Regions from separate parts of the Homo sapiens genome. Here regions 1, 2 and 4 are each reported to be linked to region 3. Evidence: microRNA targets listed by miRTarBase, many of them from high-throughput screens and not tested one by one. Region 3 holds a microRNA gene; each other region holds the end of a gene's coding sequence.
What was found. The annotated mature microRNA hsa-miR-4722-3p reads ACCUGCCAGCACCUCCCUGCAG and lies in region 3 at 4,585-4,606, opposite strand. An mRNA with a match to its seed (bases 2 to 7 or 8) in the 3' UTR can be bound and repressed. Matches are read on the target gene's strand: a 7mer-m8 pairs with bases 2 to 8, a 7mer-A1 pairs with bases 2 to 7 and ends in A, and an 8mer does both.

Region 1: the mRNA of MRNIP is a reported target of hsa-miR-4722-3p. Seed matches in the 3' UTR shown: 7mer-m8 at 508-514.
Region 2: miRTarBase lists ZNF91 as a target of hsa-miR-4722-3p. Seed matches in the 3' UTR shown: 7mer-A1 at 437-443.
Region 4: the mRNA of SEC23IP is a reported target of hsa-miR-4722-3p. The part of its 3' UTR that is shown has no 7-base or 8-base seed match.

What each region holds. Positions count from the first base shown.
Region 1 is chr5:179,830,780-179,837,889 of GRCh38, reverse strand. MRNIP (MRN complex interacting protein) reads left to right here. Exons shown (of 7, transcript NM_016175.4): 7 at 5-614. The coding sequence ends at 499. SQSTM1 (sequestosome 1) reads right to left here. Exons shown (of 8, transcript NM_003900.5): 6 at 4,644-4,858; 7 at 4,108-4,303; 8 at 1-1,454. The coding sequence ends at 1,297. Among named protein-coding and RNA genes, the nearest start is that of SQSTM1, 13 kb to the right of the region's middle. RefSeq lists enhancers at 896-1,045, 827-1,121.
Region 2 is chr19:23,352,677-23,359,773 of GRCh38, reverse strand. ZNF91 (zinc finger protein 91) reads left to right here. Exons shown (of 4, transcript NM_003430.4): 4 at 1-2,078. The coding sequence ends at 371. Among named protein-coding and RNA genes, the nearest start is that of ZNF91, 39 kb to the left of the region's middle.
Region 3 is chr16:88,711,694-88,718,788 of GRCh38, forward strand. It overlaps MIR4722 (microRNA 4722), which reads right to left and starts at 4,644; the gene lies at 4,585-4,644. It overlaps CTU2 (cytosolic thiouridylase subunit 2), which reads left to right. Exons shown (of 15, transcript NM_001012759.3): 5 at 1-2; 6 at 581-690; 7 at 929-1,212; 8 at 1,619-1,754; 9 at 1,954-2,085; 10 at 2,443-2,534; 11 at 2,690-2,793; 12 at 2,894-3,044; 13 at 3,167-3,233; 14 at 3,355-3,413; 15 at 3,489-3,703. The coding sequence ends at 3,558. PIEZO1 (piezo type mechanosensitive ion channel component 1 (Er blood group)) reads right to left here. Exons shown (of 51, transcript NM_001142864.4): 45 at 5,330-5,518; 46 at 5,113-5,205; 47 at 4,866-5,038; 48 at 4,668-4,790; 49 at 4,505-4,584; 50 at 4,240-4,426; 51 at 3,645-4,161. The coding sequence ends at 3,912.
Region 4 is chr10:119,932,958-119,940,075 of GRCh38, reverse strand. SEC23IP (SEC23 interacting protein) reads right to left here. Exons shown (of 19, transcript NM_007190.4): 17 at 6,909-7,071; 18 at 6,289-6,390. The coding sequence ends at 6,309. Among named protein-coding and RNA genes, the nearest start is that of MIR4682, 22 kb to the left of the region's middle. RefSeq lists an enhancer at 5,840-6,009.

The DNA.
Region 1 (7,110 bases), not on the chromosome of region 3:
TCAGGGACAGGCTGGCCTGACATGGAAGGTGAAACAAGGCAGCAGCCCCTGCCTCCAGGAGAACTCTGCAGACTGCAGTGCCGGGGAGCTGAGGGGTCCTGGGAAGGAGCTATGGAGTCCCATCCAGCAGGTTACAGCCACATCCTCTAAATGGGCGCAATTTGTCCTGCCACCTAGAAAAAGTTCACATGTGGACAGTGAGCAGCCAAGGTCTCTTCAGAGGGACCCCAGGCCAGCTGGTCCAGCACAGGCTAAGCAAGGGACCCCCAGAGCACAGGCCTCAAGAGAAGGCCTCAGCAGGCCCACTGCCGCTGTCCAGCTTCCTCGGGCCACACACCCCGTCACATCTGGGTCTGAGAGGCCTTGCGGGAAGACCTCATGGGACGCAAGGACTCCCTGGGCAGAGGGTGGGCCCCTGGTCCTGGAGGCACAGAATCCTCGACCCACACGACTATGTGACCTCTTTATAACTGGGGAAGACTTCGATGATGATGTGTGATCTGGGACTGGCAGGTTATTAATCGAGATACACTTGTTAGGAGGGACAGGGTTCCCCTAAGGCACTTTTAAAGATACTCTGTAAGAACCATTAACAATAAACTTACTGTCAATCATTTCTCTCTATGCAAACGTCATTGGTTAAAGTGCTGATGCCATTTAATTAGATTGTTTACAAATTTAACAGGATGGCTACAAAGAGATCTTATTTTAAAAGCAGCTGATGGTTTGGAAATGAGAGAACTACAGTGGTGAAGAGACCAGGAGGCAGCTCTCAGTGAAACCAACATTGCGGATGCCCTTCGTGAGCCTTCTCAGTCCCAGCAGGAAGCCCACAACACTGGCCTCCCCAGCCTGCCTGCTGACAACACCTAGGCTTACTTTATCTAAAATCAGAGTGTACCAGGTCTGTAGCAGAAAATAATCAACTAAATGTCAGGGACCTATGAGTCATTTAAAACAAAAGAGAAAGTGAAAGCCATTAGGCAAGCTATGTGCTGGGCTGCTAACGTAGCCCCTGCAGGGAGGGGTCAGGAGCGCGCTGCAGTGAGCCTTGGGTCTCGCAGGCCCAGCCCTGCTGCAAGGAGCCAGGGCACCCAGGAAACATCAGCACACACACACACAGGGACCCTCCCTTCATGTCACTTGTTTTGCTGCCCTAAATGGCTTCTTGCACCCTAACCCCTGATCCTGGAAGAAGGCAGAGAAACTGGCCCGTACAGAGACCTGCAATTCTACGCAAGCTTAACACAACTATGAGACAGAAGAGGGGCACGCAGAAGAGGTGGGCAAAAGTGGTCACAACGGCGGGGGATGCTTTGAATACTGGATGGTGTCCAGAGCCGCTCCGATGTCATAGTTCTTGGTCTGCAGGAGCCTGGTGAGCCAGCCGCCTTCATCAGAGAAGCCCATGGACAGCATCTGGGAGAGGGACTCAATCAGCCGCGGGTCAGCCTCTGCCGAAACAGTAAGGAAGCCATGAGGAGTGGTGCTGAGCCCTGTGAGTGACCCGAAACACATACCCTGCTGCCTTGGCCAGCCAGGACCAGGGTCTGCCAGTGTCCGAGCCTGCCCAGAGCTCTCGTCCTCACAGGCCACAGTGGACCTGCTTTCCCTGTAAAGGGCCAAGCAGTCTTTTTCACACTGCTCAACTCTGCCACTGCGACACCAGGCAGCCAGGTGGTGTGTAAGCAGAACCATCAATGGACACTGAAATAGGCATTTCACCTGTCACATCTTTTGATTTTAAAATGTAAGAACAGGCCAGTTAGCCAATTATTACACTCCTCCATGCAAGAGATGATGGGGCATTGAAATAGATTGAAGATGGAGAGAGATGAATGGATACAAGATACATTTTGGAGGTAGAATGAACAGGACTTGGAAATGTATGTGGAGAAGGCAAAGGAGTTAAAGATGATATCTGGAGCAGCACAACTCACAATTGCAAAGATGTGGAACCAACCTAACTGCCCATCAAGCAATGAGTGGATAAAGAAAATGTGGTATATATACACCATGGAATACTACTCAGCCACAAAAAGGAACGAAATAATACCTTTTGCAGCAACTTGGACGGAGCTGGAGGCCATTATCCTAAGTAAAGTAATTCAGGAATGGATACCAAATATCATATGTTCTCACTTATGAGTAGATGCTAAGCTATGATGATGCAAAGACATAAGAATGATATAGCTTTCCCTCTCCCTCTTTCTCCACGGTCTCCCTCTGATGCCGAGCCAAAGCTGGACTGTACTGCTGCCATCTCGGCTCACTGCAACCTCCCTGCCTGATTCTCTTGCCTCAGCCTGCCGAGTGCCTGCGATTGCAGGTGCGCGCCGCCACGACTGACTGGTTTTCGTGTTTTTTTGGTGGAGACGGGGTTTCGCTGTGTTGGCCGGGCTGGTCTCCAGCTCCTAACCACGAGTGATCCGCCAGCCTCGGCCTCCCGAGGTGCCGGGATTGCAGACGGAGTCTGGTTCACTCAGTGCTCAATGGTGCCCAGGCTGGAGTGCAGTGGCGTGATCTCGGCTCGCTACAACCTCCACCTCCCAGCTGCCTGCCTTAGCCTCCCAAAGTGCCGAGATTGCAGCCTCTGCCCGGCCGCCACCCCGTCTGGGAAGTGAGGAGCGTCTCTGCCTGGCCGCCCATCGTCTGGAATGTGAGGAGCCCCTCTGCCTGGCTGCCCAGTCTGGAAAGTGAGGAGCGTCTCTGCCCGGCCACCCATCGTCTGAGATGTGGGGAGCGCCTCTGCCCCGCCGCCCTGTCTGGGATGTGAGGAGCGCCTCTGCCTGGCCGCGACCCCATCCGGGAGGTGAGGAGCGTCTCTGCCCGGCCGCCCCGTCTGAGAAGTGAGGAGACCCTCCGCCCGGCAGCCACCCCGTCCGGGATGTGAGGGGCGCCTCTGCCCGGCCGCCCCTACTGGGAAGTGAGGAGCCCCTCTGCCCGGCCACCACCCCGTCTGGGAGGTGTACCCAACAGCTCATTGAGAACGGGCCATGATGACAATGGCGGCTTTGTGGAATAGAAAGCGGGGAAAGGTGGGGAAAAGATTGAGAAATCGGATGGTTGCCGTGTCTGTGTGGAAAGAAGTAGACATGGGAGACTTTTCATTTTGTTCTGTACTAAGAAAAATTCTTATCCTGTTGATCTGTGACCTTACCCCCAACCCCGTGCTCTCTGAAACATGTGCTGTGTCCACTCAGGGTTAAATGGATTAAGGGCGGTGCAAGATGTGCTTTGTTAAACAGATGCTTGAAGGCAGCATGCTCCTTAAGAGTCATCACCACTCCCTAATCTCAAGTACCCAGGGACACAAACGCTGCGGAAGGCCGCAGGGTCCTCTGCCTAGGAAAACCAGAGACCTTTGTTCACTTGTTTATCTGCTGACCTTCCCTCCACTATTGTCCTATGACCCTGCCAAATCCCCCTCTGCGAGAAACACCCAAGAATGATCAATAAAAATAAATAAATAAATAAACAAAAATAAGAACTACTCTTGGCCCATAGGCCATAGCTCGCCATCCCCTGCCCTAAGGCAGAGAAGACACACAGCGGCGGCCCACAGCAGGTTGTGCACACGGACCTTGGTTTACACACGGCTGCCATGTGACAATGAGGAGTTTCTGTCAGCTGTCCCCACCCCCCACCCCCCCACTGCTGCCTGCCACACCATCCACTTCAACGGTGGCTTCTGCCTGGCTCCTACAGGGATCTTGGCTATGACCCCCCCCCCTCTCAGACCAGCACTCCCTGAGGCGGCACTTGAGTGTGAGTAGTAGGGACACACCCAGTGCTGCCCCCTCTCTGTGTCACACCTGCCTTAATTCCTGGTCTGCATGTTAAGTTTTAGAAACTCCTACAATTAATATTCCTGGCTCTGGAGTTTGCCTAAAGAAAAACATTTTCAGAACTGCATTAGCAGAGCTTACTCGCTATTGCTCAGGGTACACATAATAGGACAAAACCAACTCCTAACCTCCCACACCTACAGACAGCCCTGCAGTGGAGAACATCTCATCCTTCTGTTTGTGTCGCTGAAATCAGAGGAGGGCAGGATGCTCTAAAGGGAAAGGTAGGAATATGTACAAAACCTCTTGGTTCACTTGCCTGGCGGGAGATGTGGGTACAAGGCAGCTTCCTTCAGCCCTGTGGGTCCCTCCTGGGAGGGGTCCAGAGAGCTTGGCCCTTCGGATTCTGGCATCTGTAGGGACTGGAGTTCACCTGTAGACGGGTCCACTTCTTTTGAAGACAGATGGGTCCAGTCATCATCTCCTCCTGAACAGTTATCCGACTCCATCTGTTCCTGGAACAAAACTCACCATGAGCACACAGGAGACACGCGCAACAGGCCAAGCCTGACCATGGCCCTGGCTCCTGGCAGACAGTCGGGGAGCACGCATGCACACGTGCAGTTAAGGCTGCAGGGGTCTAGGGGGAACAGTGGCCACTCACAAAGACCAAGTAACTACAAAGTTCTAGCAGGTTCCCAGCGTGACTTTAATGGCACAGACATCACTGCAGCAGCAGCAGCTCCCTCGGGTTTGTAAGTGGGGCTGCAGAGGTGCTGAGGATGAGGCGGAGGTGCAGGCCACAGATCACTAGGCTGGCCGTGGTCCCAGGTGGCGGGAGGGGCACAGGCTTGCCTCAGGGCGCCCCTCGGACTCCAAGGCGATCTTCCTCATCTGCTCCGCCAGAGACTGCGTGGCGCCCTCAACATTCCCACCCGGCTTGCTGGGGTCAGAGCAGCAGCTGCTTGGCTGTGAGCTGCTCTTCTCCTCTGTGCTGGAACTCTCTGGAGAGACGGGGGTCAGGCGGCTTCTTTTCCCTCCGTGCTCCACATCGATATCAACTTCAATGCCTAGAGGCGGAGGAGGAAAGAGCAAGCCGTGAAGTTCCCCCAAGGATGCACCTGCAAGCAGGAGCTTGGCCTGTGGAGACTACAGACTCACGAAGATCTCAACGTTCAGTCCCCACAAGCAGCTAAGTGTCTGGATGGTGGCACTCAGCGTGTGGATGCAGGTGCTAGGTTCTACCCAGCTCGACCCCGCAATCACACAGCCAGTATGGGACCAGACGATACAAACCCATGAGTCAGAGGCTTCTCCCCATATCCCAGCTACAAATCTCTGTGGCTTCTGGAAACATTCTTGGTGGGCCCATGATACTGGACCTTTCTCTTTCTCCAATTCAGTAAAACATTAACCTCAGCTAGCATCTAAAGTCAGCTTCTGAGCCAGAAAGTCGAAAGAGACCTTTTTCCTAACCATGCAGGACACGGGCCACACGGCAGGTGGGGCCAGGCCCTAAGTACAGGGAGAGCCAATACCACATGTGGCAGGCGCTTCCAGCCACAGTGATGGAAGGCCATGTGCCTCCTGACACCTGCACACAGAGGCTTTGTGCGACGACACACACGCACACCTCAACGCCGGAGCTCTGCTCTGGGAGGTGGATGGGCCGTGCAGGCGCTGCGTAGGGCCCAACGCTGGCCCCACAGGGAACCTGCACACCTCCAGGCTCACGTGACTCACCAGGGACAGAGGGGAGAATCACCTGCACTATTTTTGAAATTAAATGTGTCAAAAGTCTCCACACCCACAGCTTAGAGTCACCAGTTGCCAAAGGCTGTGGTGCACACTCCCTGCCCCCATCCCACTCCCCAAACTCTCCCTGTGCCCTTTCAGCTCACGCTGCTCTTGCCTGCTGCTGGAGTTCACATCTGCGCACTTCCTACTCTGGACCAGTACCTGCCTCTCCTTCCACTACCCTTTCCAAGACGCAATTTTTTGTTAAAAGAACATTCAGTAGGCCGAGCGCAGTGGCTCACGCCTGTAATCCCAGCACTTTGGGAGGCCGAGGCGGGCGGATCACGAGATCAGGAGATCGAGACTACCCTGGCTAATATGGTGAAACCCCGTCTCTACTAAAAATACAAAAAATCAGCTGGGCGTGGTGGCAATCGCCTGTAGTCTCAGTTACTCGGGAGGCCGAGGCAGAAGAATCGCTTGAACCTGGGAGGCGGAGGTTGCAGTGAGCCAAGTTGGCGCCACTGCACTCCAGCCTGGTGACAGAGCAAGACTCCATCTCAAAAAAAAAAAAGAACATTCAATGTTTCAGCTAGGACCTCTATCTAAATGTTCTTTGCTGGGTCAAGTAGCAGACTATTTCTTTGTATCGCTTTTTGTTTTCCTACCACTGATAATGGCTTCTCTTTTCCTTTGTTTTGTAGACAGAGTCTCGCTCTGTTGCCCAGGCTGGAGCGCAGTGCCGCAATCTCTCGGCTCACTGCAGCCTCTGCCCACCAGGTTCAAGTGATTCTCCTGCCTCAGCCTCCCGAGTAGCTGGGACTATAGGCACGTGCCACCACGCCCAGCTAATTTTTATATTTTTAGTAGAGACGGGGTTTCACCATGTTGGCCAGGCTGGTCTTGAACTCCTGACCTCAGGTGATCTGCCTGCCTTGGCCTCCCAAAGTGCTTGGATTACAGGCATGAGCCACTGCACCCAGCCTGCCTTCTCTTTGCATTTGCTAACTTTCCCTATGTTCTCCCACAGCATCTCCATAGTTTTCTACAAGGGTGAAGTGGATCAGAGACCCCACTGGTTCTGGTGTTTTCCATAGAGAGTGCCGCTTGCTGTGCAGCCTCCTGTTCCAGCCAGGACTGGCAGCTCTCTGGGCAGAGGCTGCGCTGTGATGCTGTGACCCCCTTTACGTTCACCCTCTGTCCTGTTAGGTCCCCCGTTTCCTAATACCTCTGTGCTTCATTTTGGGTTTCTCTCTTCATGTGGTTCAAACCAAGGTTAAAATAATTAAGACTGTATACCAGAAAGTAACTTTGTTCTGCCCTGATACTTGATCGTTTTAGCTGGGTATAGAATTCTAGGCTGGACCAGGCACAGTGACTCATGCATGTAATCCTAACACTTTGGGAGAACAACATGAGAAATCTCTTGAGCCCAGGAGTTCAAAATCGGCCTGGGCAGCATGGCAAGACCCCATCTCTACAAAAAAATTTTAAAATAGCTGGGCACGGGGCTGGGCACAGTGGCTCATGCCTGTAATCCCAGCACTTTGGGAGACGAAGGCAGGTAGATCATGAGGTCAGGAGT
Region 2 (7,097 bases), not on the chromosome of region 3:
AGAGAATTCATACTAGAGAGAAACCCTACAAATGTGAAGAATGTGGCAAAGCATTTAGCCAATCTTCAACCCTAACTAGACATAAGAGGTTGCACACCGGAGAGAAACCCTACAAATGTGGAGAATGTGGCAAAGCCTTTAAAGAGTCCTCAGCTCTTACTAAACATAAGATAATTCACACTGGAGAGAAACCCTACAAATGTGAAAAATGTGGCAAAGCCTTTAACCAGTCTTCAATCCTTACTAACCATAAGAAAATTCATACTATCACACCTGTAATCCCACTACTTTGGGAGGCCGAGGCGGGCGGATCACGAGGTCAGGAGATGGAGACCATCCTGGCTAACACAGTGAAACCCCTTCTCTACTAAAAAATACAAAAAATTAGCCGGGCGTGGTGGCGGGCGCCTGTAGTCCCAGCTATGCGAGAGGCTGAGGCAGGAGAATGGCGTGAACCCGGGAGGCGGAGCTTGCAGTGAGCCGAGATCACGCCACTGCACTCAAGCCTGGGCGACAGAGCGAGACTCCGTCTCAAAAAAAAAAAAAAGAAAATTCATACTAGAGAGAAACCCTACAAATATAAAGAATGTGGCAAATCTTTTAACCGGTCTTCAACCTTTACTAAACATAAGGTAATTCATACTGGAGTAAAACTCTACAAATGTGAAGAATGTGGCAAATCCTTTTTCTGGTCCTCAGCCCTAACCAGACATAAGAAAATTCATACTGGACAGCAACCCTACAAACAGGAAAAATTTGGCAAAGCCTTTAACCAGTTTTCACACCTTACTACAGATAAGATAACTCATATTGGAGAGAAATCTTACAAGTGTGAATAATGTGGTAAAGTCTATAAAAAGTCCTGAATTCTTAACAGACATAATATTATTCATACTGGAGAGAAACTCTACAAACCTGAAAGATGTGCCAACGCTTTTGACAAGTCAAACTTTTCTAAACATCAAGAAAATCATGCTGCTGAGAAATCCTAGAAATGTGAAGAATGTGACAAAGCCTCTAAATGATTGTCACACTTGATCGTAGGTAAGATAATTCATACTGGAGAAAACTACCAGTGTGAACAATGTGGCCAAGCTTTGAACTAATGCTCACACCTTAATGCATAGGAAAGCATTTATGCTTGAGAAAAAGTGAACAAATATAGACAAAAAGCCATTAATACCTGCTCACATCGTACTCAAATTCAGAGCGTTCATACTAAATAAGAAGTGTAATTACTGTCAAACGACTGATCAGAAAATATGTCTTTAAAGTACAGAAGAGTATTTTGAAAAAGCATTACAAATATGAAGAGGCATTATTTATGACCTTTTCTATGGAAAGGTAAGGACATTAAAAATGTAAGATGCATGATGAAAATTTAAGTAGAGAGGATCTTTATGGTTAACTTATAATATCGAGTGATGCATGAGGTAGATGTTCAGATTAATATTCTGCATTATTATGAAAGAAAAACATTCTTAATTTTAGTTAAAGTTTAGTATGATTTATTGTATTTTTATGAAATATATGTAGCATATTTTTAAATTATAAATTGCATGTGAACTTTTCAACCAAACAGTTTTAACATGTTAAATACTATCATGAATTCAATGAAGTGTTATTATGCCAGTAACTTTAACCTATTCCACCTTACTCAAGGGTGTAGGTAAAAGATGGTAAAAATACACTATTTGGTAAGATAATGGACTGACATCTCTAGTGATTTTTTTTGCCAGTGAGTTTTAATTGCCATTAAGTTAAAGAATATTGTTCCCATAGGCTAAATTTTTATTTTTATTTTCTCATTTAAATGTATTTGACTTAATTTTTGTGGATACCTAATATGTGTACATATTATGCCATATGTGGCATATTTTGATACGGACACACAATATATAACAATCGCATTAGACTAAATGCGGTCTCCATTACCTCTAGCATTTATTCTTTGTATTACAAATAATTCAATTCTACAGTTTTAGTTATTTTTAAATGTACAATTAAATTGTTGTTGACTACAGGATTATTTTTATGGTCATAATAAAACTTATATACAAACATAAGTAAAATCCATATATTTCTGAGTCCCGAATAAATCTTTTTTAATTTTTTCATATATTTTTCTTCGAACATGTGGCCTCTGCCTGCAAGCACATATGGACTGTTAGTATTGATTTACATAGAGTTAAATATACACATCTGTTAGTCTAAGATGAATCTTAGGTGTAAATAAATTATGGAGTGTGTTTAAGTTCGAAACTATTTTTAGCAGAAAAAAGCAATATTGGAACAAAATCATTTTAAGGAGGTGTCTAATTTACTACAAAACAAAAATTCTCAAAAATGCTGAAAGCAAATTTATACTCTGCTTTGTATTGAATTTCTTGCTGTACAATCTTTTGGCTTATGGTTCAGAGTCTCCCCATGCAAATTCTGTTTTAACTTGACTGGTACTCATGCTAGACCCATAATTTTTTGTTGTTGTTGTTTAATAGGTTTTTTGTTTGCTTAATTGTTTGTTGTTGTTGTTGTTTGTTTGTTTTTGAGACAGAGTCTTAATCTTTCTCCCGGGCTGGAGTGCAATGGTGCAATCTGGGCTCACTGCAACCTCCGCCTTTCAGGTTCAAGCAGTTCTCCTGCCTCAGCCTCCTGAGTAGCTGAGATTACAGGCATGCATCACCACGCCCGGCTCATTTTTGTATTTTTAGTAGAGACGGGGTTTCACCGTTTTGGTCAGGCTGGTCTCAAATTCCTGACCTCGTGATCCACCCGTCTCTGCCTCCCAAAGTGCTGGATTACAGGCGTGAGCCGCCTCGCCTGGACTAATTTTTGTATTTTTAGTAGAGACAGGGTTTCACCATGTTGGTCAAACTGGTCTCCAACTCTTGACCTCAGGTGATCCACTCACCTCGGCCTCCCAAAGTGCTGGGATTACAGGCATGAGGTACCAGGCCCGGCTGGCCTGTGTAATAGTTTATGAAGAATTCATTATGTGAGCCTGTCTGTAATTATAAAAATACTTTTTTAAAATTTTATTGTTCCATAAGTTACTTATGTACAGGTGGTATTTGGTTAGTTGAGTAAGTTCTTTAGTGGTGATTTGTGAGATCCTGGTGCATCCATCACCCAAGCAGTATACACTGCACCATATATGCTGTATTTTATCCCTTCCCCTTTCACTCTTCCCCGCAAGTACCCAAAGTCCATTGTATTATTCTTATGTCTTTGCATCCTCATAGCATACCTCCCACATATCAGTGAGAACATACGATATTTGGTTTACCATTCTTAGAATAATAGTCTCCAATCTCATCCAGGACATTGCAAATGCTGTTAATTCATTCCTTTTTGTTACTGAGTAGTATTCCAACATATATATATGTATGTGTGTGTGCATGTGTGTGTATATATACATTTTAAGTGTTTATATATTTATATATATATACACACACATATATATATTTCACAGATTCTTTACCCACGCGTTAATTCCTGGGCATTTCAGTTGGTTCCACGATTTTACAATTGTGAATTGTGCTGCTAGAAACATGCATCTGCAAGTACGTTTTTCAAATAATCATTTCTTTTTCTCTGGGTAGATACTCAGTAGTGGGATTGCTGGATCAAATGCTAGTTCTACTTTTAGTTCTTTACAGACTCTCCACACTGTTTTCCATATGCATTTATATGTTTTCCATGGTGGCTCTATCAGTTTACATTCTCACCAGCAGTATAGATGTGTTCCCTGATTGCCACATCCATGCCAACATCTAGTTGTTTGATCTTTTGATTATGGCTATTCTTGCAGGAATAAGGTGGTATCGCATTGTGGGTTTGATTTGCATTTCTTTGATCATTAGTGATGGTAACCATTTTTTATATGTTTGTTGGCCATTTGTATATCTTCTTTTGAGAATTTTCTATTCATGTCCTTAGCCCACTTTTTGATGCGATTGTTTTTTTCCTTACTGATTTGCTTGAGTTTGTTGTAGATTCTGGATATTAATCTTTTGTCGGAGGTATAGATTGAGTTTGTTGTAGATTCTGGATACTAATCCATTGTCAGATGTATAGATTGTGAAGATTTTCTCCCACTGTGTGAGTTGTCTGTTTACTCTGCTGACTGTTCCTTTTGCCATGCAAAAACTCTTTAGTTTAACTAGGTCCCAGCTATTTATCTTTGTTTTTATTGCATTTGCTTTTGGGTTTTTGGTCATGAAATTTTTGCCTAGCCAATGCCTAGAAGGGTTTTTTTCCAATTTTATCTTCCAGAATTTTTATAGTTTCTGATCTTAGGTTTAAGTCCTTAATCCATCTTGAGTTGGTTTCTTTTATAAGGTGAGAGATGAGGATCCAGTTTCATTCTACATGTGGCTAGCCAATTATCCCAGAACCATTTGTTGAAAGGGTATACTTCCCCACTTTATGTTTTTGTTTGCTTTTTTGAAGATTGCTTGGCTGTAATTATTTGGGTTTATTTCTGGGTTCTCTGTTCCATTGGTCTATGTGCCTATTTTTATACCAGCACCATGCTGTTTTGGTGACCATGGCCTTACAGTATAGTTTGAAATCAGGTAGTATGGTGCCTCCAGATTTGTTCTTTTTGCTTAGTCTTGCTTTGGCTGTGCAGGCTCTTTTTTGGTTCTATATGAATTTTAGAATTGTTTTTTCTAACTCTGTGAAGAATGACGGTGGTTTTTTGATGGGGATTGTGTTGAATTTATAGATTGCTTTTGGCAGTATGGTCATTTTCACAAATTATTCTACCCATGCTTGTGCATGGGATGTGTTTCCATGTCTTTGTGTTGTCTATGATTTGTTTCAGCAGTGTTTTGTAGTTTTCCTTGTACAGGTCTTTCGACTCCTTCGTTAGGTATATTCATATAATTTTTTTCCCGCTATTGTAAAAGAGGTTGAGTTCTTGATTTAATTCTCCATTTGGTTGCTGTTGGTTATTAGAAGAGCTACTGAGTTGTGTACATTAATCTCGTATCCTGAAACTTTGCTGAATTGTTTTATCAGTTCTAGGAGCTTTCTGGAGGAGTCCTGAGGGTTTTCAAGGTAAATGATCACATCATCAGCAAGCGGACAGTATGACTTCCTGTTTACTGATTTGGATGCCCTTCATTTCTTTCTCTTGTCTGATTGCTCTGGCTAGGACTTCCAGGGCTATGTTGAAGAGGAGTAGTGAGAGTGGGCATCCTTGTCTTGTTCCCGTTCTCAAAGGAAATGCTTTCAACTTTTTTCTATTCAGTATTATGTTGGCTGTGGGCTTGTCATAGATAGCTTTTATTTATTACATTAAGCTGTGTCCCTTGTATGCCAACTTTGCTGAGAGGTTTAATCATAAAGGGATGCTAAATATTGTCAATTTTTTTTTCTGCATCTATTCAGATGATCATGTGATTTTTGTTTTCAATTCTATTTATGTGGTGTATCACATTTCTTGACTTGTGTGTGTTAAACCATCCCTGCATACCTGGTATGAAATCAGCTTGATCATGGTGGATTATCTTTTCGACATGTTGTTGGATATTCTTTTCGACATGTTTTTGGATATTGTTAGCTAGTATTTTGTTAAGGATATTAGCATCAATGTTTATCAAGGATATTGGTCTGTAGTTTTCTTCTTTGGTCGTGTCTTTTCCTGGTTTTGGTATTAGGGTGATGCTGACCTCATAGAATGAATTAGGGAGGGTTCCTCCTTTCTCTGTCTTGTGGAATAGTGTCAAAAGAATTGGTAGTAATTCTTTGAATATCTGGTAGAATTCTGCTGTGAATCCATCTGGTCCTGGACTTTTTTTGTTGGTAATTTTTAAATTACCATTTTAATCTCACTGCTTGTTTTTGGTCTGTTCAGGGTATCTAATGCCTCCTGATTTAAGCTAGGAGGGTTGTATCTTTCCAGGAATTTATTCATCTCTTCTAGGTTTTCTAGTTTATGTGTGTAAAGGTGTTCATAGTAGTCTTGAATGATTCTTTGTATTTCAGTGGTGTCAGTTATTATATCTCCTGTTTCATTTCTCAGTGAGGTTATTTGGATTTTCTCTCTTCTTGGTTAATCTTGCTAATGGTCTATCAGTTTTATTTATCTTTTCAAATAAGCACTTTTTGTTTCATTTACTTTTGTATTTTTTTGTTTGAATTTTATTTAGTTCTGCTCTGATCTTGGTTATTTCCTTTTTTTCTGTTGGGTTTCGGTTTGGTTTGTTCTTGTTTCTCTAGTTCCTTGAGTTGTGACCTTAGATTTTCCGTTTTTGCTTTCAGACCTTTTGATGTAGGCATTTAGGGCTGTGAAGTTTCCTCTTCATCACCTTAGCTGTATCCCAGAGGTTTTGATAGGTTGTGTCATTATTGTCACTCAGTTTGAAGAATTTTTTTATTTCTATATTGATTTTGTTTTTGCCCCAGTGCTCATTCAGGAGCAGATTATTTAATTTCCATGAATTTGCATGGTTTTGAACGTTCCTTTGGGAGTTGATTTCCAGTTTTATTCCACTGTGGTCTGAGAGAGTGCTTGATATAATTTCAATTTTCTTAAATTTATTGAGGCTTATTTTATGGCCTATCATATGATCTATCTTGGAGAAAGTTCCATGCACTGTTGAGTAGAATGTGTGTTCTGCGGTTGTTGGATGAAATGTTTTCTAATATCTGTTAAGTCCATTTGTTCCAGGGTATAGTTTAAATCCATTGTTTCTTTGTTGTCTTTCTGTCTTGATGACCTGTCTAGTGCTGTCAGTGGAGTATTGAAGTTTGCCACTATTACAGTGTTGCTGTCTATCTTGTTTCTTAGGTCTATTAGTAACTGTTTTATAAATTTGGGAGCTCCAGTGTTAGGTGCATATATGTTTAGGATTGTGATGTTTTTCTGTTGGACCAGGCCATTTACCATTACATAATGTCCCTTTTTGTCTCTTTTAATCACTGTTGCTTTAAAGTTGGTTTTGTCTGGTATAAGAATAGCTACCCCTGCTTGCTTTGGGTGTCCATTTGCATGAAATGCCTTTTTCCACCCCTTTAAGTTTATTTGGGTCCTTATGTATTAGCTGAGTCTCCTGAAGACAGCAGATAGTTGATTGGTGAGTTCTTAT
Region 3 (7,095 bases):
CGGTATGTGGGGCCATTGCTCCTCCTAGTCCCTGGCCACTTGGGGTAAGCCCTGCGGATCCTCCCTCTGGTGTGGACCCTCCCTCTGGTGCCGGTCCTCCCTCTGGTAGGATGTGTTGAGCTACTGGTGCTGCCCCTGCACTGAGGGCCTGGTGGGGACATCTCCCTGAAGGAGGCAGCAGATGTATCCATCGTTAGGTGGCATCACTGTTCCTGGAATCTAAGAACATCCTTAGAAAGTCGGGGGTGGGAGCAGGAGTGGCGGCTGCCCAGCCCCCATCACGGGGTCTGGGGACAAAGAAGGGCAAGTTAAGTGCTGATGGTGAGCGGGGGCCCAGGGGCCGACTCCCCGACCCTTGCTCCTGCAGAACGAACTCCTGGGGTGTTGACTGTAGCGCTGAGGTCAGCCGCAAGAGAGAAACCCCTGCCCAAAGGAAAATGGCCGACACCCCACAGCTCCGCCAGGAAGCACCGCCCTGCGGAGCGAGGCCTCGAAGGGTTTTCCCAGGTGGAGGTGGCCCTGCAGCCTGCCCTGCCTGGCTCCTCTCTGAGCCCTGACTCTTTCTGCCTGGGTTTTTCAGAGGGAGCAGCCTGTGGCCAGAGCCTAGAGGAGAGATCAAAGACCCTGGCCGAAGTGAAGCCCATTCTGCAAGCAACTGGGTTCCCATGGCATGTGGTGGCCTTAGAGGAGGTGGGAGGGCTGTCCCTGGAAAGGGGTCCCGGAGGTGACCCCTGGGGGGCACCTGCCCGTGTCCCAGCCTCACTGGCCTCTCCCTCATCCCAGAAGGCGGGGCTGTCGGTGGGGGGTGGGAGGCACCTGCCCGTGCCCCAGCCTCACTGCCGTCTCCCGCATCCCGGAAGGTGGGGCTGTCTGTGGGGGGCACCTGCCCGTGTCCCGGGCCTCACTGGCGTCTCCCTCATCCCGGAAGGTGTTCAGCCTGCCACCGTCGGTGCTTTGGTGCTCTGCCCAGGAGCTGGTGGGATCCGAGGGGGCCTACAAGGCGGCCGTGGACAGCTTCCTCCAGCAGCAGCATGTGCTGGGGGCCGGGGGTGGTCCTGGCCCGACTCAAGGGGAGGAACAGCCACCCCAGCCCCCGCTGGACCCCCAGAACCTGGCAAGACCGCCTGCCCCTGCCCAGACTGAGGCTCTTTCCCAACTGTTCTGCTCAGTGAGGACACTGACTGCCAAGGAGGAGCTTCTGCAGACCCTGCGGTGAGGCCCCGAGAGCCCCCCTTCCCCGGGCCCTGACCCCCACTCATGCCCCTGAGAGCCCCCTTCCCCGGGCCCTGACCCCCACTCATGCCCCTGAGAGCCCCCCTTCCCCGGGCCCTGACCCCCACTCATGCCCCTGAGAGCCCCCCTTCCCCGGGCCCTGACCCCCACTCATGCCCGAGAGCCCCCTTCCCCGGGCCCTGACCCCCACTCATGCCCCTGAGAGCCCCCCTTCCCCGGGCCCTGACCCCCACTCATACCTGAGAGCCCCCCTTCCCCGGGCCCTGACCCCCACTCATACCCCTGAGAGCCCCCCTTCCCCGGGCCCTGACCCCCACTCATACCCGAGAGCCCCCCTTCCCCGGGTCCTGCACCCCCCAGGCCCCTGAGACGCTCTGTGCTTTAGGACCCACCTGATCCTCCACATGGCCCGAGCCCACGGCTACTCCAAGGTCATGACTGGGGACAGCTGCACACGCTTGGCTATCAAGCTCATGACCAACCTGGCGCTGGGTCGAGGGGCCTTCCTGGCCTGGGATACGGTAGGCAGGGGCCTGGGTGTTCAGGAGGCCCATCCTCACCTTCACCCCTTCGGCCACCTTTACTGGAGAGTAGCCTCTCGCGTATCAGTCCTGCGGCCTCGGATGGTGGTGGGGTCTGTGACCTCCCCTACCTGGCAGGGGAGGAGGGGCAAGCACATTCGGGCCTTGACCTGGACCACACAGCCCCTGCCTCCCGCAGGGCTTCTCGGATGAGCGGCACGGGGACGTGGTGGTGGTGCGGCCCATGCGGGACCACACCCTGAAGGAGGTCGCTTTCTACAACCGCCTGTTCTCCGTTCCTTCTGTCTTCACACCAGCCGTCGACACCAAGGTGGGCCTTGTGGGCTGGGCAACCTCTCTCACCATTGACACCGGGGTGGGCCATGTGGGCTGGGCAGCCTCTCACAGGCTCAGGTCACCAGCACACCTTCAGTGACTCCTGCTGTGGCCCCCAGCAGTGCTGCATCCTCTGAGCCCACCCTGTGCCGTGAGGGTGTGGGGGTGACAGGAGGACCCCACAGTGGGTGCACTGCTGAAGCGGGTTCTCTGGCTGCCTTGAGCAGTCGCAGCAAAGCCAGACCCATGTGGGCCAGCAGCGTGGAACCCACGGCACCTGTCCTGGGGACTCTGCCCCAGCCTGGGGCTGGCCTCTGGGCTTTCCCATAGCCTCCAATCTGATTGTCCCTAGGCCCCTGAAAAGGCCAGCATCCACCGGCTGATGGAGGCCTTCATCCTCAGGCTGCAGACCCAGTTCCCCTCCACTGTCAGCACTGTGTACAGGTGTGGGTGTGTGTGGGTGTGTGCGGGGGGTGCGCGGGTGTGTGCTGTGCGCGGGTGTGTGCGGGTGGTGAGCTCACCACTCGTGCTCAGGCCAGGGCTTAGGGTGGAGCCCCAGCCCGTGTGATTCACCTGCTCCTCCCACAATCCGGCCACAGGACAAGTGAGAAGCTGGTGAAGGGCCCCCGGGATGGCCCTGCTGCTGGCGACTCCGGCCCCCGCTGCCTCCTCTGCATGTGTGCCCTGGACGTCGACGCCGCTGGTCTGTGTTTCATGCTCTTGGGGTGATGCGGGGAGGGAGCCAGGGAGTGGGTGTGGGGGCTCAGCAGCCCCAGGCTCCGTCACCCCCTCTCTGCTTGCAGACAGTGCCACGGCTTTTGGGGCTCAGACCTCCTCGCGTCTCTCCCAGATGCAGTCACCCATCCCCCTGACTGAGACCCGGACACCCCCGGGGCCCTGCTGTTCTCCAGGGGTGGGCTGGGCCCAGCGCTGTGGCCAGGGGGCCTGCAGGAGGTGAGTCCCTGTCCCTGCCACCCATGGCCAGCTGCATGGGGCGGGAGGGGGACCTGTCCTTACCCCACACTGCACGGCATTGAGGTGCCAAGGTGGGCACACAGCCAGCTCTGCTCCCGCAGGGAGGACCCCCAAGCCTGCATTGAGGAGCAGCTGTGCTACAGCTGCCGCGTGAACATGAAGGACTTGGTGAGTACGTGCCCACCTGTCCTGGGCCGGGCTTGGGGACGCGGGAAGGCCGTCACCTCGTGGGTGGCTTGAGGGGGTGCTGGCAGGTTTCTTGGCCCCTCGACACCGGCCTCTGTTGCAGCCCTCACTGGACCCCCTGCCGCCGTACATCCTGGCTGAGGCCCAGCTCCGCACACAGAGGTACTGGGGCCCACACTGCCGTGGCGCGTGGGTAAGGGGCCTCGGGGCTGGTGCCCACTGCAGCTTTCTCTCTAGGGCCTGGGGCTTGCAGGAGATCCGGGACTGTCTGATTGAGGACAGTGACGACGAGGCGGGCCAGAGCTGAGCGTGAGGACGTGCTTGCCGGGACAGCAGGCAGTGGCCACCTGGTACACCACACTGGAGCCGGAAGGCAAGGACGGGGGACTGGCCTCTGATTGTCCATTTGTATAAATAAAACATTTTTTAATTAAAAAAAAAACTCTACAGTACACGTGGGGGACGGCAGCGCCACGCAGGCCGTGGGGACGCAGTGTCCTTCTCTGACAGCAGCATCAGGGCTCAGGCAGGCCGGGAGGATGCATCACAGCTGGCGGCCTTGGACGGGGCAGTGGCTCCCCCGGCCTGAGGAGTGCCGCCCCTTGTGGCCACGCTGCCCAGCAGGCCGGCTCCTTCCCTCTCGGGCGCCAGCAGCAGCTCCTACTCCTTCTCACGAGTCCACTTGATCATGGTCTCCGGTGAGCGGTAGAGGAAGATGAGCTTGGCGTACAACTCCTCCTCCAGCTCCAGCTCCCGAGTCTCCCGCACCAGGAAGATGTCCTGGCAGAGCTTGAGGATGCGGTCCACGCACGGCAGCTCCTCGAACATAATGGAGTGCGAGATCTCGCTGAAGAATCCGCGCACGAACTTGCCGATGACCAGCACGATGGACACGTACAGCCCCATGATGCTGCGGGGGAAGCTGGTGAGTCCTGGGGCCGCCCGGAGCCCCCCGAGCTGCGGGGTGCCCCCCCAGCCACTCACTCACCCGTAGCCAGCCAGGAAGCCGAGGCTCGGTGGGCTGACCTTGTCACTGAAAATGACCATGGGCAGCAGGTTGCAGTCGGTCCGGCACTCCTGCAGCTCGATGACCCACCATTCGAGGAAGCCGGTGGCCCCCGCACCCTGCTCCCTCCGCAGCTGGATACGCACGCCGAGGTAGTCGGCCTCCTCATCTGGGATGGAGGGAGAAGATCGTTGAGGCCGCAGGTCACCCCTCTCTAGCCTCCCCCAACCCCCACGCCCATACTCACTGGGCTGCAGCTGCTTCACAGGGTTGGCTTCGGGCCCGTTGGGGGCACGGATGTACTTGGGGAAGAGATTAGGGATGACCCTGCAGGGAGGTGCTGGCAGGTCAGGCCTGGCCCAGCCAACCTGGCACAGCCCTCCTGCCCACCACCCGGGCCCTTCACTCACACAGACTGGTCCGAGGTGCCCTCGAGCAGGCTGGCCAGCTGCCGCCGTGCAGTGCTGTTGGGGGCCAGGGCCAGCATGTGCTTCTCGTTGGCATACTCCACAGTGCCTCCCTTCGCCAGGTCCCTGGGGGTGGGAACACAGCGTGACCCACTGTAGTGGGTCCACCCACCCAGGCACTGCCCCAAGTCCAGGACGAACCTCTGGAAGTTCCAGGTGAAGCGCAGGGTGATGTCGGCCGTGCCGTTGTAGAGCTCCCGCTTCATCTGGGCACGGCTGGGGGGACTGATGCGCCACAGCGCCCCGGAGCTGCCCTCAATCTGCGCCGTGACGATGTCCTCAGGGCTGTACTGGCTGATGAACTGCATGGCCAGCTGGGTACAAGTGACACCCTCAGTGACTGCAGCCGCCTCCCCACACCAGCTTTCACAGGGCAGAGGCCACTTACCGGCTGGGGGTCAAACTGCCGGGACAGCTCCTCATAGGCCTGGGCCGTGAAGGGGATGATGGACGGCTGCTGGGCGCTCATGGTGAACAGCGGCTGGGGCAGGCACGGGGACACGGGGCCACGAAGATGAGCGTGGAGGAGCGGCTGGGGGTGGTGCACCACCTTGGCCAGAACCCCCAGGGGATGGGAATGGACAGGCGGACCCACACATGCTCACCTCATAGCCGCCCAGCTTCAGGGTGACGGTGACATCGATGGGCTGGTTGACAACCCCAACCACGGAGCGCACCAGCGACATGAAGAGCAGTGGGAACCAGATGATGGCGATGAGGAAGAGGATGATGAGGCCACCCATGCCGTACTTGACGATCTTCTTCTTCTTCTGCCCTTTGGGCTGCGGGTATTTCTGGAGGGGAACGACACAGGTCATACGCTCAGCTCTGCCCTTCCTGCGGGTCACACAACCGCATTCTCCAGCTCACCCAGCAGCCCAGAAAAGCCCCAGCCTGACCTCAGTATGGCACAGCGGTAGTAATGGTGGGCAGACACAGGCCAGTGGAGTAGAACTAAGAGTCCAGTTGGAACCCTCATGTTCAGGGGTCGTTGATCTTAGACAAGGGAGCTGTGACCGTTCAGTGGGAACGGACAACCTTTTTCAACACGGTGCAGGCACCGCCCCAGGCAGGAGAATGAAACGCAACTCCTGCCTCATACCATGTGCCAAAATTTACCTCAAAGTGGATCAAAGAGCGAAACTTCAGAGCTAAAACTATAGAACTTTTAGAAGAAAACGGGCAAATCTTCATGAACCTGGATTTGGCGAAGGAAACAAAGTAAACCAGATATTACCAAAATAAATACTTTGTGCTTCCAAAGACACCAAGAAAATTTAAGAGACAGTCCATAGAATTGGAGAAATTTTCTGCAAATTTTAATTGATAAGGTTCTAGCAACCAGAGAATACAGAGAATTCTTCCAATTCAGTCATTTCTAGCCAATGTATCTGCAGAAAAACAGAAAAAACTCTAATAAAAAACAACCCAACTGCTGGGTGTGGCGGCTCACACTTGTCATCCCAGCACTTTGAGGTCAGGAGTTTGAGACGAACCTGGCCAAAAATACAAAAGACTAGCCAGGCCTGGTGGTGCACACCTGTAGTCCCAGCTACTCGGGAGGCTGAGGTGGGAGAATCGCTTGAACCTGGGAGGCAGAGGCTACAGTGAGTGAAGGTCATGCCACTGCACTTCAGCCTGAGATCCTATCTCAAAAGCCCAACTAAACTATGGAGAAAGGATTTGAATAGACATTTCCCCAGAGAAGATACACAAATGGCCAAGCACATGAAAAGACGCTCAGCGTCGGTCAACAGGGAACTGAGAAGAGCCCACAGCAAGCCACCCGTTCAGCAGCATGGCCAGAACAAAAAAGACATAGTAACAGGTTGTTGAGGATGTGGAGAAACCGCAACCTCGTGTTGGTGGTGGGAACCTTAGATGGTGGAGCTGCTATGGAAAACCAGCAGCTCCTCATGATGGAAACCACCACCAGCACTTCCGGCCCTGGCGTGCAGCCACAGGACCAGGGGCACGGGCACACAGACGTGTACACCGGCGTGCCTGGCAGCATCACGGGCAACAGCCCATCAACAGATGAGCATGTTGTGGTCCATCCATGCCACAGAATATCATTTGCCCATAAACAGGAAGGCCATACTGCCACGTGGGTGGACCTCAGAGACACCATGCTGAGCAAGGAAAGCTGATTACAAAAGGACAAACGCTGTCTGAGCCTGTTTTCATGAAATATCCACTGTAGGCAAATCTCATAGAACCAGGACCTAGACAAGGGGTTACTAGGGGCCAGGGGAGGGGAAACCGAGTGACAGCCAATGGGCACTGGGTTTCTTCTTTTTACTTTTTTAGAGACAGGGTCTCACTCTGTTGCCCAAGCTGGAGTGCAGTGGTGTGATCAGGCTTAATGCAG
Region 4 (7,118 bases), not on the chromosome of region 3:
CTCAGTAAGATTAACCAGCATGATTTCTTCATAGCAAAGCCAGTACAGAGAGTAAAAGACACAATTTAAAGTTAGTTATGGCCAAGTGTTGTGGCTCACGCCTGTAATCCCAGCACTGTGGGAGGCCGAGGCAAGTGGATCATCTCAGCTCAGAAGTTCGAGACCAGCCTGGGCAACTTGGGGGAACCCTGTCTCTACCAAAAAATAAAAAAATTAGCCAGACGTGGTGGTGCACACCTGTGGTCCCAGCCTCTCGAGATGCTAAGTTAGGAGGATCGCTTGAGCCTGGGAGTCAGAGGTTGCAGTGAGCCAAGATTGCGCCACTGCACTCACACAAGCTGGGTGACAGAGTGAGACCCCTTCTCAAAAAATTAAAATATTTTATTTTATTTTTTTTCTTTGAGACAGAGTCTCGCCCTGTCGCCCAGGCAGGAGTGCAATGGCACGATCTCAGCTCACTGCACCCTCAGTCTCCCAGGTTCAAAAGATTCTCCTGCCTCAGCCTCCCAAGTAGCTGGGACTACAGGTGTGTGCTACCACGCCCGGCTAATTTTTGTATTTTTAGTAGAGACAAGATTTCACTATTTGGCCAGGCTGGTCTCGAACTCCTGACCTTGTGATCCGCCTTGGCCTCCCAAAGTGCTGGGATTACAGGCATGAGCCACCGTGACCAGCTAAAATATTAATAAAAAATAAAGTTAGTTATCTGCCATGTTAATTTGAGGCTTTTTTATTTTTTATTTAATTATTTATTTTTGAGACAGGGTCTCACTCTATAATCCAGGCTGGAGTGCAGTGGTACGATCACAGCTCACTGCAGCCTCAATCTCCCGAACTCCAGCAATCCTCCCACCTCAGCCTCCCAAGTTGCTGGGACTACAGGTGCACACCATCATGCCCCAGTGATTTTTTTTTTTTTACTTTTAGTAGAGACAAGTAATGTCTTGTCTATGTTGCTAAGCTGGTCTCGAACTCCTGAGCTCAAGCGATCTGCCTGCCTCAGCCTCCAAAGTGCTAAGATTACAGGTGTAAGCCACCACACCTGGCCAATTTGAGGCTTTTCAAAGAACAATCCTAAAAAGGTCTAAAAGGACATGAACATAAAACAACCATTCAGCAAAACTGATCTAAGCTTGAATGAACTATGTATAGAATAATTGTTAACATTTTAAATGGATTATCTTATGACATTAGTATAGTATTAGAAACTTAAATTCTTGCCTAAATTTTACAGCCAAGTGTAAGAAGAAGTAAATAAAACAATTATAGTGAACGAATCATATGTGAAATAGAAGGTTCTGAGTTTTCCATATAAGGTGATGGCAAAATCCTAGAATTACTATTCTTTTGGTTTTGTTTGTCTTGCTTTGTTTTGTTAGGGGAGAGAGCGTCAGGGGAACTTAAATTATTTCGAACTTCATTCGGGATAACTGCAAAGACTATGGTATACTGAGAACTTCTACTGCCAGATATTATGTAAAAAATTACAATTATTAAAACACCATATTTCACCAAATCTAAGACACTGTTGATTGTGACACTTCACTGTTATGTACCATAAAAAGATGCCCAGAAAGGGAGTCTCAAAGGAGAACCCCTCACAAAAAGTGGGGGACTAAACATCTATAGTCTCAATGAGGGATAAAAGCAAGCAACTACATGCAGAAGGGATGGCAAAGAGGCCTGCGCACCTCTTCCTTGACAATGGAAAGAGGGAACAAAAACTCCAATATCTGAACTGACAACCCCATCCCTGCAAATTTTGGGGGCTGAAATCACACTACCAGCATCATCCTAAAAAATCCCAAGCAGAGAAATTAGCTTAAGCAGAGGCAAGTTGGTAAAGCCCCTCCCCCAGTGACCAGCAGAAGAGAATGCACAGCTTCTCAGAAAGAACTCAACTTCCGTTAAGGCAACAGCTGACTTAAATTTTTTTTTTTTTTTTTTTTAAGAGACGAGGTTTCACTATGTTGCCCAGGCTGGTCTCAAACTCCTGGGCTCAAGTAATCCTCCCACAGCGCTGGGATTACAGGTATGAGCCACTGCACCAGCCCCAACAGCAGATTTTAAGATGCATTACAAATTTAAATATGTTAAAATGTGGAAAATAAATGGCTTGAAATCAATGAAGTATCATAGACAAATAAATCACCAGAAGAGATGAGAAAGCCTAGGAAACAAATATTAATTAAAATGTCAAACAACAGCAAAATATTTGGCATATGATAAAAATATCAAACCAATGACAAAAGGGTACATTATTCAATATATGGCACAGACAGAAACGATTATGTAAGAAAAAAGTTAAATTGTTCTCTACACCTTACTCTTCTAAATTACAAAGCCAAATGGGGAAAAAAAGAACTAAAAAGAAAATAAATGTAAATATCTAAAAAATAATTAATCATAAAAGACTGGGCTATGTTTTTTGTTTTTTTGTTTTTTTTTTTTAGACGGAGTCTCGCTCTGTCATCCAGGTGGGAGTGCAGTGGCACAATCTAGGGTCACTGCAACCTCCGCCTCCTGGGTTCAAGCAATTCTCCTGCCTCAGCATCCCAAGTAGCTGGGATTATAGGTGCCAGCCACCACACCCATCTAATTTCTGTATTTTTAATAGAGATGGGGTTTCTCCATGTTGGCCAGGCTGGTCTCAACCTCCTGACCTCAGGTGATCCGTCCACCTCGGCCTGCCAAAGTGCTGGGATTACAGGCGTGAGCCATCATGCCCAGCGTAGGGCTACGTATTTTTAAAACATGCTCCCCTCAAACTGCCGCCAAAAAAATCCAAAGTATAAGGAAAAATAAAAGGCTAATTTCAAACTGGGAAAAAATACTTATAATGACAAAGGTTAATATCCTTAAGTATCATATTTATAAATCCATAAGAAAGAAAAGGACCCTGGCCGGGCACGGTGGCTCACGCCTGTAATCCCAGCACTTTGGGAGGCCAAGGCGGGCGGATCACGAGGTCAGGAGATCGAGACCACAGTGAAACCCCGTCTCTACTAAAAATACAAAAAATTAGCTGGGCACAGCAGCGGGCGCCTGTAGTCCCAGCTACTCGGGAGGCTAAGGCAAGAGAATGGCATGAACCCGGGAGGAGGAGCTTGCAGTGAGCCGAGATCACGCCACTGCACTACAGCCTGGGCGACAAAGCAAGACTCCGTCTTAAAAAAAATAAAATAAAATAAAATAAAATAAAGAAAGAAAAGGACCCTACCCCGTACCTCCAAGAAAACACAAAGGTCATGAACAGGCAACTGACAAAAGAAATATAATCAGCCAGTTAAGATACACCCAAAGAGCTCAACTTCACTAATAATAGAAATGTAAGTAAAAACGGTATTATAACTATTTCTGGCTATCAAATTAGCAAAAAAAAATTTTTTAATCAGTAATACCCAGTGTTTCCAAGAGTGCAAGCATACTGGCCTTTACATACTGATGGTAAATATGAAAATTGAGCAACTTTTCTGGAATGCAATTTAGCAAAATGTAGGGATCAAAAAGCTTTTTTTTTTTTTTTTTTTTTGAGACGGAATCGCATGCTGTTGCCCAGGCTGGAGTGCAGTGGTGGAATCTCAGCTCACTGCAACCTCCACCTCCCAGGTTTTAAGAGATCCTCCTGCCTCGGCCTCCCAAGTAGGTGAGATCACACCCTGCTAATTTTTCTGTATTTTTAGTAGAGACGGGGTTTCACTATGTTGGCCAGGCTGGTCTCGAACTCCTGACCTCAAGTGATCTGCCCGCCTCGGCCTCTCAAACTGGGATTACAGGCATGAGCCACCGCACCCAGCCAAAAATCTTTTCAAAATATGCAATATTCTCAGAAATAAGAACACTGCTTCTAAGAATGTATCCAAAGCAAACAGAGATTGGCAAAAAGTGTGTAAAACTACATATCAGAGTTATTTATAATGGAGAAAATTTGGAAAATCATCTAACACCCAACAATGGGGTAAAATAAAGTATTTTAATAAAAGAACTATAAAATGGAATGAAATGCAACTATTAAAATATCACGTATCACTGTAGTACTGTTCATACTAATAAAAGATTAGAATAACTTCAATGCCCATCAGTAGGGACTGCTTAAACAGATTATGGTGCAATAGTCAATGGAATACCTAAAAAGAACGAGGTCACTCTCATGTTCTGATCCAGATTCTTCTCTCCACCTGAAGTGGTCTTCTTCCTCCAGATATCCACCTGGCTCGCTTGCTCAAATGACACTTTACTTTACCCGTGAAGGGGGTCCCTTGCCATCTTATATACATTAATAACTTGAACCCATCCCAAATGAATTCCTCTCCTCCTTGTCCAGCTGCTCAGTCTTTACCATGTGGTTCATTTCAACTGTCCACGTGCTGTCTGCCTTCCATTAGAGGAAAAAAGGTCCTTGAGGGCAGAGGCTTTGGTCCACTGCTGTGAAACCCAATACCTAAAATAATACCTGGCACTTAAGTAAGGTGCTCAACAGATACTGGACGGATGGATGAATGGACGGATGGGCGGACAGATGGATGAATGGATGGATAGATAGATATGGGACAATCTCAAAGACACAAAGGTAATAACGGTGTGTCAATTTTGCTATCATTTGTCTTTTTTTTTTTAGATAGAGTCTCACTCTGTCATCCAGGCCGGAGTGCAGTGGCGCAATCTCAGCTCACTGCAACCTCCAACTCCTGGGTTCAAGAGATTCTCCTGCCTCAGCCTCCTGAGTTGCTGGGATTACAGGCACCTACTACCATGCCCGGCTAATTTTTGTATTTTTAGTAGAGACAGGGTTTCACCATGTTAGCCAGGCTAGTCTTGAACTCCTAACCTCAAGTAATCCACCTGCCTCGGCCTCCCAAAGTGCTGGGATTACAGGCGTGAGCCACTACACCCAGCCTCTTTTGTCTTTTAAAAAAGAAAAACTTAAAAGTGTGTGTGATGTGTTAACAGATATCTGGAAGGATACACAAAACGTGGAACACTGGCTGCCTCTAGGCAGGGAGGTTGGGGATGAGTTATGGGAAAGCCATCTTTCACTTCTGGCCTTGCATTTCCCAACTACAGGCACCCGCCACCACACCCGACTAATTTTTGTATTTTTAGTACAGACGGGGTTTCACTATGTTGGCCAGGCTGGTCTCGAACTCCTAACCTCAGGTGATCTGCCCGCCTTGGCCTCCCAAAGTGATGAGATTAGAGGTGTGAGACACCATGCCTGGCCTACACTTTAGTTTTCTTTTACTTTGTTACAAGTTTAATTTTGGAAATGGAGCCAAAAAACTTTCTCTAAGGAAGCCCTACTAAAAGTACTTACCTCTCTAAAACGAGGAGGTAGAAGATGAGGCTGAAGGGAATGTTCATTTACCACTTACTATTAGAAAACCAAAAATGGCAGGAACTTCCTTTGATTTCAGTAATTTAGAGCTCAGCATTTTGTGTCTGATTCTTTCAAAGCCTTTAAAATTTCTAACTTTGTAAAAAACACATTACTTGTTTTTAAAAGTAATGCATAATCTAGTGAGGAAAACCAGGTATCTGGTGTCTCAGGAGGACAGTTAGGAATACAGAGTGTGGCTGAGCTGCACGTCAGCTGACCCATCACAGACTTAACCTCCTTCTCTATTCTTTCCCTCTATAAAGATTGGGAATGCTCAAAACATTACTTCTACAATCTTTCATACAGACTGGAGATATTGGACATTAGACACAGGCCTAGTCAATAGGTATGAGTAAATTTTTGGACAAGCTTCTGCTTCCCTAATTAAGAGCGACAGATGTGAGGAGTACTACCCTCTCCCCTCTTATTCATGTTGTGAATGTAGATATGGTATCTGCAACCATGGGGGCACCTTATAACTATGAGGCAGCAAGAGCCAACATTCAGGTGGGAAGAGGCAAGCACTCTGGGTATCTGGTGGAGTCACTCAACAGAAGAACCCTTCTTGTTACGGAAGAAAAATAAACCTCTATTTGTTTAATGTATTGTAAACTGGGTTCTGTGAACCTGCAACCAAAGGAATTCCTAACTGATATTCTTGGGAATCTATTTTAAAAAGAAACTAAAAATAACTCAAATTCTATGTAAATTTAGAAAGAAGACTGTAATAAATCAGAAATGTAAATTACAAACCAATTATCTTCCTTAATGTCTCTATTGCAAATTTTTAAAAACGACGACAAAAACTCAGAGGAAACAGAAAAAAGCAAAATCAGTCAACATCAACTCCATACAACAGATTTGAGAATGCAAACATTCAGAATTTATACATTCAATAAGGATAAACTCACACAGTAAAACTGAAGTTTGATCAATGCTGGGGCTGTTCTGGACTAATGTTCATTGTTCGATAAATTTCTTTAAGTAGTAACAGAGCAGTATCTTCAGATTCCCTATGAAAAGGAAAAGCATATTTACTTAAGAGACAATTAGAAGAAATTAACTTCTATGCACAATGGTTGAAAATGCAGGTTCTATTCTATTCAACTCTATCTAAGAAGGGCAAATGATAGCAATGTAATCTCAGTGTAATAAATAAAGCAGCGTAATCTCAGAGCTGTCCTTAAAAACTAGATGAATACTGATTAGCTCCAAAATAGCTGTGTTGCAATTCTCCTTGGTGACAGGGATACAGGAAAGAATGGCATTTCAAAGTCCCTACCACTCCCACTGTGAAAGGCATTCCCACAAAAACAGTGTGCAAGAACCAAGGGTCTTTGGTCAAAAGCAGATGACATACTGCCATCTTGTGGGTAACTAAGGGGGAAAAATAACGATTCTGAACATATAGTAATTCAAATGAATATTCATAGTACATTGTATCAGTAAAAGAATCTCACTAAAACTAAAATTGCTGCACGTGCTAGCACCAAAAGCCCACTCAAATGTTACCAAATTTAAGAACACTTACCAATAGCATAAGTGACTCTGAAGAGCGAAAAGGTATTCATTAAAACTCTCTATTGGTTTTTCTTGGAGAACGTAGTCAATTCGGCGGCCTCCATTTAACATTCCAACCTTTCCTAAGTAGTCCTCATCCTTGGAAAAATCTGGACTTTCAACAACCTTTTCTGCTAGAATTTAAACCATTTCAATATCAAAGTCAATCACTTAATCTTTA